Homo sapiens: one gene and its partner. The protein of the gene in region 2 interacts with the protein of the main gene of each other region in a pairwise test. Each region holds a gene or a part of one and is shown on either strand. Other genes may lie near its edges.

What was found.
Region 1: the proteins of SERPINA5 (region 2) and EPS8 interact in a two-hybrid assay, tested with the Homo sapiens proteins (one large-scale study listed by BioGRID and IntAct).

Annotation. Positions count from the first base shown.
Region 1 is NC_000012.12:15,663,362-15,667,393, forward strand, and holds part of EPS8 (epidermal growth factor receptor kinase substrate 8), read right to left. Parts: intron 3,162-4,032; coding exon 3,079-3,161; intron 2,532-3,078; coding exon 2,395-2,531; intron 1,746-2,394; coding exon of another isoform or gene 1,744-1,745; exon of another isoform or gene 1,433-1,743; intron 1-1,432. UniProt on the Homo sapiens protein: Signaling adapter that controls various cellular protrusions by regulating actin cytoskeleton dynamics and architecture. Depending on its association with other signal transducers, can regulate different processes.
Region 2 is NC_000014.9:94,587,926-94,591,425, reverse strand, and holds part of SERPINA5 (plasma serine protease inhibitor preproprotein), read right to left. Parts: coding exon 3,445-3,500; intron 1,386-3,444; coding exon 1,115-1,385; intron 678-1,114; coding exon 530-677; intron 1-529. UniProt on the Homo sapiens protein: Heparin-dependent serine protease inhibitor acting in body fluids and secretions. Inactivates serine proteases by binding irreversibly to their serine activation site. Involved in the regulation of intravascular and extravascular proteolytic activities.

The DNA of each region.
Region 1 (4,032 bases), on a different chromosome or scaffold from region 2:
GGGATTCAACGGAGAAGCAGTTCAGCCTGAGTCAGCTGGAGCATCCAGAGGAACCAAAAAGATATTCCTCCTGAGGGGCTTTCCAACTAAAAACTGGACTGGACCCAGGCCAAACCTGATATAATAAGTCTTCTGTTTAGGCTAGTGGTAAATTAGAAGTTCTGAAAGCCTTATCTCACTTAAACAGATGACATTGCAGAAAATATTTCAGATAAAATTTAATGAAAGCTCAGAAACCCCTAGGGATAAATTCTGTCTTTGTTATAAATTATATTAGGTTCAGCAGGGCATGGTGGCTCACGCCTGTAATTCCAGCACTTTCAGAGGCTGAGGCGGGAGGATCACGAGGTCAGGAGATCAAGACAATCCTGGCTAACACAGTGAAACTCCATCTCTACTAAAAATACAAAATTAGCCAGGTATGGTGGCACACGCCTGTAATCCCAGCTACTTGGGAGGCTGAGGCAGGAGAATCGCTTGAACCAGGAGACAAAGGTTGCAGTAAGCTGAGATCGCACCACTGCACTCCAGCCTGGGTGACAGAGCAACACTCCATCTCAAAAAAAAAAAAAAAAAAAAAAAAAATAATATATATATATATATATATATATATATACACACACACATATATATATGGTTCAACATATAATATACATAATATATATTATATATATTAGGTTCAACATATATTTTTACAGGTTTGTTCAGAATGTCTGTAAACTTGTCTTATCCTTCCTCTACTTCAGACCCTCTTCATCGAAACAGTAACAACAAAAACACCATAAGTACACAAAAAGTATAGAATACAATAAATTACTGTCTTTTAAACACATTTTAAATACAAAGCAGATCAATACAAATTTACATAACTTATGAAAACGGAAACTGTTATAAAATTAAACTACATATCTCTGTTAATTAATTTTTTTTTAAATAAATGCATCAAAGAATTCTTTTTTTCATATCTTTGGTAGCTCGGCTTACATTTCAACCTCTGAAAAAACCTTTAAGAATACAAGAAACCTAAACAAAATAGAAAACAATTCAGAAAGAAAATGAACTCAATTTGGCAAAATGAAAACCACAAATTATGCTTACTATTTTGTAGTAGGTACTACCATAAACATTATTTACTTTCAGATTCAGAGCAACCCATGAATTATTATCCCCATTTCAGAGATGAGACCGAAGTACAGAGAGATAACTTCCCAAGACCACACAGGTAGACATATCAGGTCTTGCTTCAGAGTCCAACTTTTACTCTGCACATCCAAAGTAGAGTCCGAGGTGACTCATTTTTGGAAATGAGTTATATCGTTTAACTATAGTGCCAGATACCCTGTGTGAATAATACTTTACTGGATAAAGAATAAGAAGTTAAGAAGTTCCACTGGAGTAGCGGCAAAAGAATGAGGCTCTAGAGTTCATCAGATTGGAGCCTGCTGAATCACAATTTATTCGTCCTTAAAATGAAGATACTAGACCAAACATATTTTAAGGCATTTTTTTAGTTATAAACATTTCAGATTCTAGTAAAATATTCTAACATATAAAAAGTAACACTAAGTTCTATGTTATAATTGTTTTTAAACAGAATGCCAAGGTGAAATGATGCCACGCTCATAGGGCCCACTTGACAAGAACAGTCATATGATGGATACCTTTTACCCTTCTCCACTGCCAGCAGCCAACCACTGTCCTGACAACCTTTCCATGAATATGACAAACTTGTCCAAAAAGGGACTCTAGTTAGATAATAAAAAATGGAAAGAATGTTAAGTGCAATCTTTAAGAAAAACCTGTATATATTTTGTTGCCATCTTTTTGTCAATCAAGTAAAACTTCCTCTTAGCATTAAAAAAATAAAAAGACTCTAACCCTAATACCATATTTATTAAATGGTGGGTCTAAACTCTTACAGATAATAATCTTAACAAAATTCAAGGCTTAACTTTATTTTATCTAAGATTTGATTTTTTTTTTTTTTGAAATGGAGTTTTGGTCTTGTTGTCCAGGCTGGGGTGCAATGGCGTGATCTCAGCTTACTGCAACCTCCGCCTCCCGGTTCAAGTGATTCTCCTGTCTCAACCATCCCAGTAGCTAGGATTATAGGCGCATGCCACCACACCCACCTAATTTTTGTATTTTTAATAGAGACGGGGTTTCATCATATTGGTCATGCTGGTCTCAAACTCCTGACCTCAGGTGATCCGCCCGCCTCGGCCTCCCAAAGCACTGGGATTACAGGCATGAGCCACTGCGCCCGGCCAGAGTTGATTTTTTAAAAACTAACCTCAAGCTTCAGTTCTGAAATCAGCATCAGAATTTGAAAGCAAGAACTATGTCCCAACCCAAAGTAAGTGTTCAATAAGTATTAATTCTAGGAAGACTCACAGTCCCCTTGGTCGGCTGCCCATGCAGACCAGGCTGCCACTCGACTTCTAACATCCACCTGGGTGACGGTCCCAGGGGGCGCAGGGGCAGGAGCTCTGGGTGGAGGCGGTATACTAGGGTCTGCATTGGAAATCATCCTTAAAAAGATGAAAACAAATAGAATTTTTACCATCTCTATTTCTATAACATATCAATTAACTCAACTTGTGGTACTAGTTATTAAAATTCAAAAAGAACTATGTCAAGGGACAATAAGGATTTCCTAAGCATTACACATTATGCATATTTATGAATGCATATGAAATAAAAAAATTAATAGTCAGCTGAAAACTAGGTTGATTTTCCTTCTGAGTCTTATGTGATTTGAAAGGGCCATGGAACAATTACAATCCTACTGTCTAGCTTGTATTTCCCTAGGATACCTTCTCTTAAAATGCCACTCATCTTTCATGACTCTGTGACTTCCAACACAAGTGAAGCCATATCAGAGAAAGACCAAAAATATGGAGAGAAGAGGAGTAAACACACTGACAAACTTGGGAGAACAAATGTGTTGAGACTACAGGTTATGATCTATACAATACAATAATATACTTCCATAGAAAATAATTTTTCTAACTCTTTGGGGAAAAAAGCCTTAGAAACAAATCAATTCCACTCCTTGATTTCTTTCAATGCTTTTACCTCAGGGCGTCGGGCCGCCTCTTCTGTTTCCCTCCTTTACTGTCACTGATTGCACTTTCAATATCTTCACTAATTAGGTTTGCCTGCAAAGAGACACAAGTTACCTGAAAGTTTATGGATTTTTCTGAGTCTTGATATGTAGTTTAAAACAGAAAAAGGGATTGTTCCTTGTCTGAATCAGTAAGTATCTTGATGTAAAAAGTCTTTTTATAAAAATCTTGCAAAACATGACTCTTGTGGTTTTTATAATGGTGAACTATATAATGATAAGATTTTAAAAACTGAAGAAATTTTTAATGATTATCTTAAAGGGAAACTATCCTTGAATAAAGGCAATGATAGAAAGGATATGTACACGCTAAAAATGAAACTGAGTAAAAATCTCTAATTGGGTAGAAATTAAGGGGTTAGAGGCTCCCACACATAGAACAGAGTTCCTTCCCTTTCTCATCCTCAAGATCCACTGGACACCCATTAACCCAGCAAAACAAATCTTTGAGTTTAAGGCAAATCTACTACACCCATAAGATAAACTCCAACGCTAGGTTTTACCCCTTTGGGTAACCACTTTATTTTGTCACTTCAGGTAAAAGTTAACTTTCTGCAAACAATTAACTTTTCCACTACTTTTCCAGAACATTCAGTTAGATTTTTCTTGGGGAGCAACGTGAGATTAGCAGATACGAAGTTTCTGTTTGGTTGCAAAGTTTGTTTAGAGCCAGTGATCATTACTCTATATTAGAATGTTGATGAGATGCACCATCTATGTTTGGGCCTCCCTGTTCTCTGTAATGTTTTCTCAAATATGTATGTTGTATTTCTTTTACAGTAAGCATCGATAATCATAAAACTTTAGAAATGATGGGATATTTAAAAGAGCATCTCATCAGTTCCTTCTAATTAATAAAACTGAGGAGTACTTGTATAAAAGGGCCTGGCCAAGGTCACATTGCT
Region 2 (3,500 bases):
AGAGTAGAATGGAATGGAATAGAATAGAATAGAGTGGAGTGGAGTGGAGGAGTGGAATGGAGTGGAGTGGAAGAGTGGAGTGGAGGAGTGGAATGGAGTGGAATGGAAGAGTGGAGTGGATGAGTGGAGTGGAGTGGAGGAGTGGAGTGGAGGAGTGGAGTGGAGGAGTGGAGTGGATGAGTGGAGTGGAGGAGTGGAGTGGAGGAGTGGAGTGGAGATGTGGAGTGGAGGAGTAGAGTGGAGTGGATGAGAGGAGTGGAGGAGTGGAATGGAGTGGAATGGAATAGAGTGAACTGGAGTGGAGTGGAGTGGAGTGGAACTGAATAGAGTGAACTGGAGTGGAGTGGAGTGGAATTGAATAAAGTGAACTGGAGTGGAGTGGAGTGGAATTGAATAGAGTGAACTGGAGTGGAGTGGAGTGGAGTGGAGTTGAGTGGAATGGAATGGAATGAAATGGGGTAGAGTAGAATAGAAAGAATAGAACAGAATAGACCTTGGGAAGCAGATGCATAGGAGCTTCTGAACCCACCTCAGACACCTGGATATTTGAGTGGTTGCTGATGCCGGACAGATCAGCATGGGAGGTGAAGACGTTACTGATCCCCAGACTGGGGAGGACTTTCTCCAGCTGATAGGAGCCCTCAATGGAGAATTTGGGAAGGTAAAGCTCGAGCTGCCTGGAAAGGGAAAAGGAGCTTTCTTAGACTGTTCTGGGGCATTGGCACACTGAGCCTCACCCCTTGGATTCATAATGCACTGGATTCTTAGTTTTGATGGTTTTAAAAAAGGACTCCTTAACCCAAGGAACAATGGTGGTTATGGCTCCTCTGGCCTCTTTTCTAGGATGAGCCTCCCCTTGCTCTGGACTTGGACGTGGGCTGCCCAGAGGTCTCTGCCCACTCTGGCACCACCCTAAGGAACCCAGTTTCCAGCTCTTGTCCCTCCAACTGGGCTAGGCCCCCAGGACTTGGATGTCACAGGATGCCTCTGGGCCTGGAGGCAGCTCCTTGGCTGGGTGAGTCCTTCCCACCAGTGCTGTGTGGCCCTGGTAGGGCGTGTGTGTCTCCCTGGGGCTGTGTGGGTTTAGGCTGGCCCTGGGGTAGTCTGAAAGTACCTCTTTTTGAACATCTTAAGCCACTTCCTCAGCGTTTTCTCACTCAGTCCATTCTCCACCTGCTGCATCTTTCCCTCACTGGGGAGAATGAACAAAGCCGTGGCATTGCCTTGGTAGGGGACCCCCACCACCCTGCAGGAGAGGTTCCGGTCCAGGAGGTAGTGATACTGATCCTCGCGGCTCATCATGGGTACCCGCACCACAGTCTCCGAGGTCACGTAGAAGTCTTGCTCTTGGGTGCCTTTGTGGTTGAAGCTTGTCTCCCACTTAGCTAAAGATGAAAAAAGGGAAAAATGAAAAAGAATTTTGTGTCAGAATTAGAAATTCTCAGCTGCAAATAAAAGGAGTGAAGACAGTAAAGATAGCCAGCGGAGACCATCTTTATGGCAGCCCCAGAGCAGTGACTGTTGAACCTCTTGAATATGAAGGCAAGTCTCTTTATAACATTGGGCACATTCTTGGACTTTTCGTGGGACTTTTCCTTCCACATTTGCAAAACAAGGAGGTTGGTTTTCACATCTTCAGAGGCCCTGGACCCCTGATGTTCTCTGATTCTCTAACGTTTTACTCAAGACCAAATCTCCAAGTGAAGAGGGTGAAAAATGTGGCTGGCTGTGAATGCTACCTGATATCTGGGTGAACTTCTCTGTTTGCACTTTCATTCCAATATTTTGATTTAAATTTTAGAAAGAAGTTAGTATGGATCCTGGAAATGAATGGTTTTTCCCATTGGGAAGTCTTCAATGACCCTTCTCTGACCTTCCTATGGGAACTTCTGAACAAAACGCTACAAGTGATTGTTTCCAACTTCTTTTTATTTTATTTTATTTCTTTTTTTCTTTTTTTTCTTTTTTTCTTCTTTTTGAGATGGAGTCTCGCTCTGTGACCCATGCTGGAGTGCAGTGGCGCAATTTTGGCTCACTACAGCCCCCACCTCCCAGGTTCAAGTGATTCTCCTGCCTCAGCCTCCCAAGTAGCTGGAATTACAGGCGCCCACCACCATGCCTGGCTAATTTCTGTATTTTTTAGTAGAGACGGGGTTTCACTATGTTGGCCAGGCTGATCTCGAACTCCTGACCTCAGGTGATCTGCCCATCTCGGCCTCCTAAAATGTTGGGATTATAGGCGTGAGCCACCATGCCTGGCCTGTTTCCAACTTCTTAATCGTTATCGAAGGAAGACCCCAGTCAATACCGTCCTTAGCTTATTTCCCAGCTGCCCTCAGCAATCTGGTGTAATGGGGACTGCCCTGCACCAGGGGATAGGAAATCTCAGAGTCCAAGTTCGACACTCACTGCTGTGGTCTCAATGTTTGTGTCCCCACATTGTTCATATGTTGAAACCTAACCCCCAAGGTGGTGGTATTAGGACAGGGGGCCTTTGGGAGTTGATTAGGTCATGGGGGTGGAGCTGTCATGAACAGGATCGGTGTCCTTACAAAAGAGACCACAGAGAGCTGCCTTCCTCCTTCCAGCAAGGATATACTAAGAAGGCACTCTCTATGAACCAAGGAATGGGCACTGCATCTGCCAGTGCCTTGATCCTGGACTTCTCAGCCTCCAGAACTATGAGAAATATATGTTTGTTGTTGCTAAGCCACCCAGTTTATGGTATTTTGTTATAGCCACCCAAATGGCCAAAGATACTCATGATCTGTGACCATAGGAAGGGGAGGTGTTAACAATTTACCTTCCTTCGCAACCCTTCCCACCCTCTCCTCTCCTCTCTTCTCCTCTCTATCCACTCTTGCTTTCCCCAGGGTCAGCAACTGGCAGGAGCTGCAGAGGCGAGCAGGAATGCTTACAAGGAGTGTCGGGGAGATAAGCAGAGGTCAGCTCTTGCTGAGGAGTCAGGAGGAGGCATTTCAGAGGAACAAGCATTTGTCTGAGGGAGTCTTGGCCTCTATGAGGGCAGAGGGGCCAAGATCTGAGGGATACGGGGGACTGGGAAATGCCCTTTAAGCCCTTCTGGGGTCTGTGTCCTGCCCTGAGTGGCTAAGGTGTTGGTGTCTTTGCCATGGTGGCCACAATGGGTTCATACTTCAGAGCCTGTAGAAAGCTGGGGCTTCAGATGTCCCCAGGGGCCCGAAGACAGCAACCAGCTCTTCCTCCGTGGAGGAAACAGCATCTCAGCCTCACTAATCCCATCCACAGCAAGAAGGCATTCATCTTACCTTCTCTGGCTGCTTGTTTACTTAATTTTTCTCAACAGGCACCCAAAAGAACTTAACGTACTCCCCGTCTTTTATGTATGTGAGGGAATTGGGTATTCTTTAGATAAAAGCAGCAGAAAAGCCAAAGAAAGTGCAGGTTTGGGCCCAAGGGCCTTACCTTTAAAGAAGATGTAATTCACCATGATCACGACCGCATTGCTATCGAGGTTCTTA